Linked DNA regions of Homo sapiens: region 2 is linked to region 1. The links come from fine-mapping of genetic effects on gene expression. Tissue or cell type: whole blood. Region 1 holds a variant in brackets; the other region holds the start of a gene. All regions are shown on one strand. Distances are from middle to middle.

Region 1 (7,665 bases):
AAACAGAATTCTGCTCTTAGCCAGAAAGCATTCCAGTTAGCAAACTACCTGACAGTGTAATGTGCCCAGAGGACCCAGGAGGGCCATCCCAGGGAGAACAGCATCGCCATTTCTGCTGACCACATGCTGTCTCCTGAGCCCCGGTATCTGAGGCCCTCATCGAAGGCATAGGCATATTAACAGTTATGCTGCCAGACTTTTATCAGCAGTCTGTACTTCTCCTTTTATCTTCGGAACTGTGATGAAAAGAACAGTCCACTCCCTTCTGATCTCAACACTTACCAAAGCTCATCTGTTCACAGGCAAATGTACTAAAACATTTTTTATTGGAGACTGAGTTTCATGTGTAGACATCATTGTATTTCTGTGTGGTGTCCTCAGATTTTCACTCTTGTTTTTTCCCCAGCTGCCTTTTTTAAAAACTCCTTTGCACTCTTAAACGTCAGGCTGAGTGTATGTGTGTAAATAAACGCTTTGGGTGGAGGATATTGTTCTGCTGTGACAAGCCATCAAGCAGCACAGCAAGAAACAATACTTTTCTAATTTGTGAGTTATTCTTACGTTTCCCTTTTGCAAGGCTAGTTATTTCATTAAATTCATTTAATTTAAGCTTTGAAATCTTTTTTTTTTTTTTGAGATGGAGTCTTGCTCTGTCCTCCAGGCTGGATTGCAGTGGCGTGATCTCGGCTCACTGCAAGCTCCGCCTCTCAGGTTCACGCCATTCTCCTGCCTCAGCCTCCTGAGTAGCTGGGACTACAGGCGCCCGCCACCACATCCAGCTAATTTTTTTTTATTTTTAGTAGAGATGGGGTTTCACTGTGTTAGCCAGGATAGTCTCGATCACCTGATTTGTGATCTGCCCGCCTTGGCCTCCCAAAGTTCTGGGATTACAGGCGTAAGCACCGCGCCCGGCCTAAGGTTTCAATCTTAATAAGAATGGCTAACTTTTAGATGAGAGTTTTACATCAGAAAACCTCATCGTACCCAGAGAGATGCTTCTTTAATTCAGATTTGAAGGGATGAGTTTCCTTGTTCTGGATTAAACAGCTCACTCAGACACACCAAATGAATGCAGTGTGCAGTCCTAGGTGGCACCAATCACAGAAGAGTGAAAAGCATAAAACAGTTTTAGAAAAGGTCACCACACTTAGAAATAGAAATCCACCCTTGCTCACGCAACCCGAGGGATTTGAAAATAATTTCGAAAATCAATTTAAACATGTAGGCCACCCGTCTTTTGGAGAGATGCAGTTGGTGCCTCTCCTGCAGAAGGGGTGTTAGGAGGCTGTTGTGTTTGTTGCCAGGGAGGTGATGTTTTCCCCATTGGGAACCCTAGGCCAGCAAACTTCGGGAAGTGTCTGTGGCAGCTTGAATGCTGCTATTTCAGAGCTGATGAAGAGGCAGCTTGGAGAAAACCTCAAAAATAAATACTCTGATTCATCATTGTTGTTCAGGCTTTCCAGCCGTCAGAGCCAGCCCAGGGTTCTGAGACAAAGGGTAACATTCAGCACAGAGCCCAGCGGAGAGTCTGGAGCCCTGACTGTCTCTAAAAGAGGGGGCGGAGAGGGAGGCAGCTGCCTGCAAACCCTGGAGTGGGGCTTGACGCTGGGGGGACGGCGTGTGCTGGTTTTGCTGCTTTGGGGGTGAGGAGAGGATGAATAATCCAAAGAGGGACGTCTCCCGAGAGCAGGGACCATCTCATAAATAGCCCAGAGCAGTCAGTTGGGTGGCGGGCTGCCGTGCGGGGGCTGCAGTTAGAAGCAGCACTCGGAGTGGAGTGGGGCCTCCCAGCGGGGCCCTGCTGCACTTTGTGAGTGCTCTGTGGTCGAAGGCCAGCTGGGCCTGAAGGCAAAACATCTGGATTTTGCAGAGGGTTCCTAGGCTGAGACGGAATTCAGGCTGTAGGCTCTGTGAGACCTTGTGTGAAACCCCCGGTTCTGTCTCTGTCACTTGTTTGAGTCTCCCATTTCTCTGTCTATCAAAAGATTGAATATGGTGGCTTACAACAGAGGCAGTCGAGGGTAATTATTAGTATCATGGTTTGACCTCGAGATCTGGCACTTCCTGGACCTATTCCGTTGTATATTTCTCTGTGCACTCCCTGAGCCTCCCTTTTCTCAGCTGAGAAAATGGTCACACCTATGGTATCCCACACTGTGGAAAATGACCAAATAAGACAAGGTATGTGCAAGTATTTGGTAGAACCCTACAGAGGTAGGAAGTGGCTGTTACTAGCTGTTTCCACTGGTATTCTCTGGCCATCTCAGAGCTGTTTAGGGACCATTCCAGCTACAGGGGAGGGCAAGATTTAGAGTAGACTCTCAAATGAGTCTATCTGATTCTTTGGAAGCACGAGCTCTAGTAAGATAGTTTGAACAAAGATGTGACCATGAGGGGTTTTGTTTTATTTTTTAACTAGATTTTGATATGTTGTGTGCCGCTTCTCCACTGCACAGATTGACCAAGAGTTAGCTGCAGATTGTGGCTCAGTAAGAAGGTCTTGTGGTACGTGCTCCTGCGGCCCCCACCTCAAACTCTTGCCTCTGGTGTTCTTGAAAGAAATGAGGGGACCTTTGCCCGAGCCAAGGGAAAATGCAAGATTTTGGAGGCTTAGCCCCTTTATTGTTTTTTTCCTCTGTTGCTTATATTGATTTCTGCGGCAAAGAGCAGTTGACTGGGATTGAAAGCTACTCTGCTGGTCTTGGATGTGGAAGAAAAAATAATTCCCACTTTCCAAATAGAGGCTCATCCAGAGGCAGCAGATGCCAGAGGCAGCAGATGCTAGCTGCAGTTCTGCAGGCAGGAATTGCACGTGCAAAGCAGAGCTGACGTCCAGTCCACGCCTCATGGCACTTTGGAAGTGCATCTGACACCGTTTGCCTGCCATACACAAGCCACAAAGACTTTTTGAGGCGACAGGTTATGCCAAAAATTAAGTAAAAATGACACAGCTTCAGATGACATTTACATATCTATTTTTGAGGTTTCAGAACATGTGCCCTATAAAAATGTACAACTGCATTGTTTAAAACTCTTCTGAGTCTCTGAGGATTTTCTATCAGTGCATGCCTCTCAGTTATCACTTAAATGTCAAGGCCCTAAGCTTGTATGAGCCCCTAAAATGTTTTTGAGCCCCACAGTAAATTTTTGGCTGACCACATTTGTTCTATGTAAGGCTGATAACAAGCCACCACGTGGAATCTCACAGTGGGACTTTAGTATCAGGCAATTGCAGAGTCCTGAAGCTCGTGTTGCGGTTATTATGGTTCTATATAAAGCCCCAGGGGAGAAAGTCATTTCATGCTTTTAAAATTACTAGTTAATGTTTAAGGAGTTTATACGGAGTGGACTGAGCCAAGCATTTTCCCCTTAACTTTAAAATTATTACAGAGAGGCCTTAAGAAACTGTTCTGTATTAGATGGTGATTAAAATATGACCTTTTTCTTTCTTTATGCTTAGGATTTTCACGATGTGGTTTGCAATTAATTTGTATGTGCACAGTCTTTGTGCTAGTTTCTGTGGACATACAGTGGTGCTACTTGGCCTTAAGAGCTTCC[T/C]GTGTGTGGTTGGGAGATAGGCAGTTAGTAAGCCATGTGTGCTGTGAGAAAACCCAGAGCATAGAAGTCGCACATGAGAGTACCAGGTGCTGAGTACCATGGGGGTGAGAGCAAGGAGGGATTATTTCTGCCCCAAGAAGGCTTCTTGGGAAATAGAGCAGTTATGAAGGACCTGGAAAGATGTTCCAATAAGACTTGGGTGAGGAGACACAATAGTCCCAAGTAGGGAGGGCAGAGCACCCTGAGTAGAGGTGTGGTGTCAGGAAGTGTGAGAATTCTTCAGAGACTGATAGTCGGAAGGGATTCCTCTGCAAAGGCCTGTGGAAGGATATGAAGGTTGGAAAGACAAGTGGGAGCCATTGGGGAGTCTCAACAAATGTGTATTGTATTGTGTGTGTTTCACTTGGAAAATTATCTTGCTATTAATGAGAAAGTACAGATTAATGCTTTTTTTGTTTTACTGGATTCAAATTATATTTGACAAGTCATTTCATTCTAGTGTATGCATGTGATTTTCTTGGAACGAGGGTAACATTTTAAAGATAGGATTTGATGAGTCAATGAGGTATTTTTCAAGTAGATTACTTAGAAAATGTTATAGTCATAAAATATCTTGGAGTTACAGTTAAGAGTCAATTATTGTTTCATCTATAGGCATCCAATTAAAGTTGAATTATGCTGTTATTTTCACTCAATTTCCAAAGCTATGCACTTCCGTAATTTCTATCCTTGTTTATAGTCAGTATAATGTTTAATGCAATGTGCCTGATTTAGCACTTTGTGTTATAAATTTTGCCTGATAAATAATCAACTTATTTTCTTCCGTATGACGACAGTTTTCTTCACAGTGAATGGAGCTTAGTGTATTTATATAAAATGTAAGTCTGGGAGAGTTTCCATTATAGTTCAAGTATATTTAATGTTCAAAAGAATGCAGTATTTGTGGTTTCCTGGCATTCTTTGAATACCATGTGGCTCTTCTCTCTTCCTTCTCACCAAAACCCTAGTCATTTTATTATTTATATAATGAGATACTGTAAGATACTAAAACATAAGTTATTGTGAGGTCTGGCTTTTGATGCTATGAAGTACCCTTTGTTATTTGAGACTAATGAAATGAAATCAGTGAGTTCCAGCTTGTCTACTAGTATGTTGCTTGAAACAATTACATTCTTTTGAACATTAAATTTATATATTTGAACTATAAGGAAACTCTCCCAGACTTGTATTTTATATACTCTAAGCTCCATTGACCATGCAGAAATCTGTCAGCATATGAGAGGAACAAGCGGATTATTTATCAGGCAGATTTTATAATGCAGAAATACGAAGCAACATAGTGCTGTGGTGAAGACAGAATTGAACATTGTTAGACACTTAGCAATCCCAAGAGGCATCATGAAGTCCATGTACCCTACACCATAGAAAAGGCTACACCCCAAAGTTCTGGAACAAGCCTGGTTTGCTGGCTTTCTGGTGTCAAATGTCAGAAGCAGAAAATGGGAGGATGGTAAAACAGTAGACTCAGTGAGAGCAGGACTGAACTTCAGCAGGCCCCATAATTGTACAGAAACAAGATTGCTAGGCTGGGTGCTGTGGCTCACGCCTGTAATCCCAGCACTTTGGGAGGCCAAGGCAGGCAGATCACTTGAGGTCAGGAGTTCGAGACCAGCCTGGCCGACTTGGTGAAACCCTGACTGTACTAAAAAAAATACAAAAATTAGCCACGTGTGGTGGTGCACACCTGTAGTCCCTGCTACTGGGGTGGTGGGGGGAGCTGAGGCAGGAGAATCGCTGGAACCCGGGAGGTGGAGACTGCAGTGAGCCAAGATCAGACCACTGCACTGCAGCCTGGGCGACACAGCGAGACCCCATCTCAAACAACAACTACAAAAGATTTCTCATGGCCACTTAGTTTAGGAAGAAGACCCCCATGTAGTTCATGAACCCAATGCTGTGAACCAAAATACTATAAACACTAGTATTCTAGGTCACCACTGTGATCATTGAGAAAATGTTGAAGTATATTGACATATTTTGTTTAACAAAACAAGGGACTTAAAGTGCGTTTTAGAAATATTTGTATACATGCTGGTTTAAAAAAGAAAAGACTAAAAACAAGCCTTAGTACATAAAAAGAAAATATTCAGTTTTCCAGAAAATGAGGTTACTCCCTTACATTGAGAGTTACATGAAGCCTTGTTACAGTACTTTTAGTCTTCTTTATTCAAAGAAAGAATTACCAATATCATTTTTTTTTTAAGATGGAGTGAGTCTTGCTTTGTCACCCAGGCTGGAGTACTGTGGCATGATCTCAGCTCACTGCAACCTCCACCTCCCAGGTTCAAGCCATTCTACTGTCTCACCCTCCCAAGTAGCTGGGATTACAGGCATGCGCCACCATGCCCAGCTAATTTTTGTATTTTTAGTAGAGATGGGATTTCACCATGTTGGTCAGGCAGGTTTCAAACTCTTGACCTCAGGTGATCCACCCGCCTCGGCCTCCCAAAGTGCTGGGATTACAGGCATGAGCCACCATGTCCGACCACCAATATCATTTTTTAAAAGTAAATTATTACGATTTCCTTAGGTGGTTAATAAATTACCATTATTTTCTCTATTTTACAGATCACGAAATGATAAGTAACTTACCGAAAGTTACATTATTTAAGTTAATCAAATGTTTATTGATTGCCAGACTTTTTTCTAGGCTTAAGCAAATGTTGGAAAATACTTCTCTGAGCTTTCAAAAATGTTATTTCTACTTGTCAGTGCTGCAGGAGTTTAATACAGATAATTTAGGCTGGGCGCAGTGAATCACGCCTGTAATCCCAGCACTTTGGGAGGCCAAGGCGGGCAGATCACGAGGTCAGGAGATCGAGACCATCCTGGCTAACACGGTGAAACCCCGCCTCTACTAAAAAATACAAAAAATTAGCCAGGCGTGGTGGCGGGTGCCTGTAGTCCCAGCTACTCAGGAGGCTGAGGTAGGAGAATGGCGTGAACCCAAAAGGCGGAGCTTGCAGTGAGCCAAGATTGTGCCACTGCACTCCAGCCTGGGCGACAGAGCGAGACTCTGTCTCAAAAAAACAGATAATTTATCTACATACTGTATGACTTTACTTTAAAAAATGTTTGTATCCTTGTAGTAAGACTGTTATTTTTTTTAATCCTACATCACATCATGCATTCCTGAGTGTGAGCTACCAGTGTTTTTGTCTAGGGCTAGATTACTAGAGCTAAAATATCGGGAGAATTAATGAGAAAAAAAGGCTTAACCACTGAGGCTCTGTCAATATCAGTTTTTGTGGCAGGCTATGTTTACTTTCTTCAAGGAAAAATGTCAGGCAAAATTTTATCACTACAAATACAAAAGAGAAGAACATTAAAAAAATCTGATCATTATAGAAATCATAGTCAGTGCAGAATGTTTCCTGCAGAATCCAAGTGTTTAGTGAATGTTGGTGGAAAATATGAAGTGTGTCATGTGATTGGAAAGTCATTTACCATATTCATTTTTCTTTTAGGAAAAAAAGTAAATTAGATTTTGTATGAGAATAAACCTTACTGAGACTTGTTAATTTTGCTCTGAAATTTACTGTTTGATATTAATCTGGCCAGTCTAGCTTTCTTTTAGATTAATGTTACCATGATACTTCGTTTTTTATCCTTTTACTTTTCATATATCTGTGTCTTTAAGTCTAAAACGAGTTTCATATAGACAGTATCAGTATGTAGTCTGGTCCTTTTTTATCTGCTGTGACAATCTTTGCCATTTAATTGCAGTCTTTACACCATTTATATGTAATGGAATTATCATTAATTTACATGGGATTATAATTTACATTTAATGACCACTATCCTTTTATTTGCATTCAGTTCATCCTCTTGTTCCCTTTTTCCTTCTGTTGGGATGAGTATTTTTAATTACTTCATTTTATTATGTTTGGTTGTATTAGTTTCTAATATGATTAGCTGTATTAGTTTCTAAGGCTGCCATAACAGATTAACATAGAGTGTCTCAAAACAACAGAAATGTATTCATACACAGTTCTGAAAGCTAGAAGTCCACAATTAAGGCCTTGGCAGGGTCATGCTTCCTTTGAA
Region 2 (5,000 bases), 240 kb before region 1:
GCTCCTTAAACTTACCCCAAAATGGCCCCTGACTCTAGTGTTCTGCTACTCAGGTAGATCCTCACCTCTACCTGTTTAGAGATCTGCCAGTTACAGTGAATCTGACTGCTGCCTGCTTACGCATTTCGGCAGTTGCCTTGCCTCTCCTAAACCTTGAATATGGTGCATAGAATAAAATATAAGCCTTAAGTCATCTTGGTTACCATAAATCTCAGAATGATGCTTTTTCGATACTTATGCAATTCCTATTGCCCAATTTGAAAATGTCCTGGTTCATTTGAAAACAGTCCAGTTAGCTGCATAGAGCAGCAAGCTGTAAATTGTATCTGAAAGACCGCTGGCTTCAAACCATTGGGATTCTGAGTCATCTGTTTGGTGGTCTGACTTTGATCCCAGCCTCCAGCCTCTGGGTCCCCCTGGTCTAGGTGACACCTCTCCAAACAGTGTTGAGCTTACTCCTCAAAGGCAGAGGACAGAAGCGGATTCTGAAAAACTCTGCGTTCAGTCTGACATTCCCTGTTCTTTTCCCGCACCTTCCCCATGAAATAGCAGACTCGAAAATAAAATTTACTCATGCCCTCATGACTGACTGACTACCCCCAACCCAGGGGGTTCTCCCGTCCTTAATCTCCTCCATTTTAGTTATACCATGGGGACTTCAGGTAGGCTGCAGGAGTAGATGCTGGCCCACATTTCCATCAGTCCTTGCTAGGGACAGTGTTACACTGCTTGGTAATTGATAAATCCCCACTCTGGGTGCACAGTCCCCTCTCCCCAACTGAGCTAAGATGTGGGCTATTGATGCTTTCATGCCCAGCCCAACCATGAATCAGTTGACTTCCAGTCAATCATTCCTCCTCGTACCCACCAGGAACAACACTAACAACTGAGGCAAGAATGCAAAGCCACAACCTAAAAGAAAACAGACACATTGTTCCATCTGATCTACTGACAGCTAAGACAGTCACTCCATGGAGTACACAGGAGATTCGCAGGCTGCTGCCAGGGCTCATTCTGTTCTTGTCTTTCCTATGACTTTACTCAGGATTCCATTATCAGCAACTTCACCCTCCAGCTCTCTCCATCCTCCTATGAAAGCCTCAGGGACATAGAAATAAGCTTGTCTTTGTAAAATGTGCCAGGATCTCCGTCTTAGATAAAAGACGACTATGAGAAAAGAAATTATTTCATTCCACTATGTTCCATTTGATTTCTGCTTTCAAGCAATAAACCACCATGGCTTGAGATGCTTCTAGTGTTTCATGGAGAATTGGGACTATTTCCCCAACATGCCCTGCTCTTCATTCCTCTTTGCTTCTTCCCTTTTTGACTCCTTGGACCCGAGGGGCGACCATGAGTGGCGAAATTTCTGACCAGCTAGAATACCAGGCAGGTGCAGGCTCTTGAAGCACCAAGACTGGCTCAAGAGATTGTAAATGGATCAGTCAAGTGCATGCACCACTGACGGCCAGTCAGGAGAGCTTCCATTTGTTAAAAATATAAAGGACATTCCTATCATCAAGCATCACAATTAGGCAATCTCAAAGAAAACAATATTAGCTCTACTTGGCCTATGTTACATGCTCTAAGAAAGTATTTTAGAAAAGTTTTTTTTTTCAACATAAATTTATTGAAGGATCAAACGTGTTCTCTTTCTTGGTCTCTTTAGCTCGTAAAGTCGTTTTGGGGATTTCGTGAATCTGGCAAATAAAACAAAACACCAATGAAACGCTGAGAAATGATTATTTCCCTTATGTATTTTAGCGGCCTCCAGGCAGACCTGATAAATATTCAGCGAGTGATTAGCTGGTGCATCCCCACCTGCGTCCTTTGCATAGCCATGCCCGCTACTCTTTCACAGGCAGTTTTACTTGGTAAGTTACAAACGTACTGGCTGCACTCTGCACCTGACAGTATTGCAGTAATTAGCTTGGGATGCAAAATGATTTCTAAATTAAGGTCCTGGACTTGTAAAATCAAGAAAGCCTGATAATCAACATCGTCGCTCTGGTGGCCATTGAATAACGGGATAAATACCTAAGACAAGTCCTTTAACCATCCCACGTGGTGATAAATGCCCGACGTACAAATTAAAAGTCTCTACCACACGCAGGTGAAATAAGGTATAGGTCAAGAAGAGAAGGTAGGGGAAAGGGTCAATGCTTAATTATTTAAAAATCGCTCTCTTCCTCCTGTAGGAAGGTCTAGGGGCTAGGTCTTTTAGTGCACACGTGATGAAAGTGACATTTTGGCCAGGTGAAACCTCAAGCTGGTACAGGCAGCTAAAACACGGGCGTCGTGCCCTGGAGACACCGGGGGTCCTGAGGATGGGGAAGGGGCTCCCTGCTGCGGGTGCTGAGGGGTTAGGAGGTGAGCACCGGGCGGGAGGCTCCGGGGCAGGGGCTGCGCGTGGAGCCCACTCCCGGACGCGGGCTCCTCTCGGCCCGGCACGGGTGGCGCAGGACTCCGAGCCCGTCGACAAGAGAGAGAGCGGGAGTGGGAGAAGGAAGACCGGGAGAGGAGGAGGCCGGGCGGCAAGAGCGGAAGAAGAGGAGGAGAACTGAGGCGGAGGAGGGCGAGAGGGAGGAGAGCCGGGCGCAGGAAGGGGAGGAAAGAAAAAGGCGGCGGAGGAGCGCGGACCCGCCACTCCCGGCCTCCTCCCCCGCATCCCCACTCGGGCCGGCCCTCCCCCGGCCGCCGCCGCCGCCGCCGCCGCCGCCGCCGCCGCCGCCGCCGCCTCCCCTTGCCCAGTGTTCCCAGCACCGCAAGGCACTCGCTGCCTCCTCCGCACTCGGTCCGGTCCGCTCAGCGCCGCCGCCGCCGCACCCTCGCCGCACCCCCGCGCGCGCCCGGCCCGCGCGCCCCCGCCGCTCGTCCTCGCGGCCTCGCGCTCGGGGCATGCGCGGTGGGCGGTGCCGCTCCGGGCCGCCTCTGCCGCCGCGAGTAGGAAGCGCGAGCGCCGGGCACCGGGCTGTCAGTGAGCCTGGGGCCAGCGGGCGAGCCAGCGGCTCCGGCTCCCGCTCCCGCTCCGCGCAGCACCAGCCCGACTCTCCCCGGCCCCCGCCGCGCCCCCTCGCCGCGACCTCGGCCACCGGCCCGCGCCCCGCGCCCGGGGTCGCCCCGAGCCCGCACCTCTCCCCCGCCGCCCCCGCCCACCCGGCCCTCCGCGGCCGCAGCTCCCCGGCGGAGGCAAGAGGTGGTTGGGGGGGACCATGGCTGACGTTTTCCCGGGCAACGACTCCACGGCGTCTCAGGACGTGGCCAACCGCTTCGCCCGCAAAGGGGCGCTGAGGCAGAAGAACGTGCACGAGGTGAAGGACCACAAATTCATCGCGCGCTTCTTCAAGCAGCCCACCTTCTGCAGCCACTGCACCGACTTCATCTGGTAGGTGCCGGGCCGGGCACTCCTGCCCCGCTCCTCCCCGCCTCCGGGTCCCGGCACCCGGCGCTCCGGCGCGTCCGCCCCGGGGCTGGCTCACTCCGATAACTTGGAACCGGCGGGAGTCCGAACTCTTCGCCCGGAGTGACACGCGCGCCCGGCCCTGACACCGGCGGGCAGGACTCCCGGGACGTCGCCGTCCCGCCACACACACCCCCTGGCGCGAGAGGGAGGCTGGCCCCGTACGGTGGCGAAGGGGATCCCTCTCCGGGCCGGGCCCCTCACCTCCCCGGGCGCGCCCACCCGCACGCACCCAGCGGAGCGGCCGCTTGCCGGGGTGTGAGCCCAGGGGACAGGGGAGGAGGAGAGGCCCTAAGGGGGCAAAGGTTCCCGGAGAAACGCGCCCCGGAGTAACGGGGGAGCGGCGGCGATTGCACTGCGCGCGGTCCAAGTTGCTGGCGAGCCAGGCTGGGCGCGTTCGGGGTGGGGGGGTTGTGTTTGTGCTTCCCATCGGGCTGGACTGCGCTGGCATCTTGGGCCCCTGCCTACTGTAGGCTGCATCTACTGGGCACGGAGAGACTGACTTTTCTGAGTGAGCAGAGAGAGAGAGAGCAAACTGTTGAAAGCTTGCAGTGGGGGAGGGGGAGTTCTAGCAGGCAAATGGCACAAGGGCAGAGGGACTCATTTAAAATAGACCCTGTCGGCCAGGCGCGGTGGCTCACGCCTGTAATCCCAGCACTTTGGGAGGCCGAGGCAGGCGGATCACCTAAGGTCAGTAGTTCGAGACCAGCCTGGCAAACATGGTGAAACCCCGTCTACTAAAAATACAAAATTAGCCGGGCGTGGTGGCACACGCCTGTAATCCCAGCTACTCGGGAGGCTGAGACGGGAGACTCGCTTGAACCCGGGAGGCGGAGGCTGCAGTGAGCCGAGATCGGGCCACTGCACTCCAGCCTGGGTGAGACAGAGCGAGATTCCGTCTCAAAAAAAATGAAACAGACCCTGTCAACTCGAGATTAGACCTGTAACCCTGTTGATGAGGGCAGAGGCCTTATTTAAGAAAAATAATATAAGGGCCAGAGGTCAGAGATCAGGTAATCGCCAATGAATTCAGGCATTCTTAACTCGGAGGGTCCCTGGGGGCTTATGGAGAATCGATACATAGAAGGGCTTCAGGGGTCTCTGAACCCTGTAAAACTGAGGGAAATTGTGTTTGTGAATCTTTTTCCTGGTGAGAGAATTACAGCTTTCATCTGATCCTCAAAAGGTGTGTGACCCTTCTTCCCAGATCCCCGTCACCACACAAAAGTTTTGAAAGCTGGAACTAAAGGAGCTCTAGGTCCTCTAGTTAGAGCAGCAGTAGTTTGGTTTTTCTTTTAAGTTGCCCGACGTCCTGACTCTTCTACCTCTTCTTTGTGGTGTAGGAAGTTCCGGGCAAGACAGAGCTATGGCTAGGGCTTCTTAGCTCCCTCTCCTTCTAGGCCAGGGGGAGCTGCACAGGGTGGCAGTCACGGAGTGAATCCTGCCACCAGCCAGCTGTGTGGCACAGGTATCTTGGGCCACTAGGGTGAGCATAGTATGGATGGCTCTGTCGGAATCCATCACACCTGGGGAAAAACAT

The links. PIP is the estimated chance that this variant, and not a neighbour inherited with it, causes the effect.
Region 2: PRKCA starts here. The variant in region 1 is fine-mapped to the expression of PRKCA in whole blood (TOPMed, PIP 0.97).

The regions. Positions count from the first base shown.
Region 1 is chr17:66,538,788-66,546,452 of GRCh38, forward strand. All of the region lies in intron 3 of PRKCA (protein kinase C alpha), which reads left to right. Among named protein-coding and RNA genes, the nearest start is that of PRKCA-AS1, 130 kb to the left of the region's middle. RefSeq lists a silencer at 3,644-3,693. The variant T/C (reference allele first, on the strand shown) is at 3,559.
Region 2 is chr17:66,299,640-66,304,639 of GRCh38, forward strand. PRKCA (protein kinase C alpha) reads left to right here and starts at 2,974. Exons shown (of 17, transcript NM_002737.3): 1 at 2,974-3,385. The coding sequence starts at 3,213. RefSeq lists an enhancer at 3,768-4,269.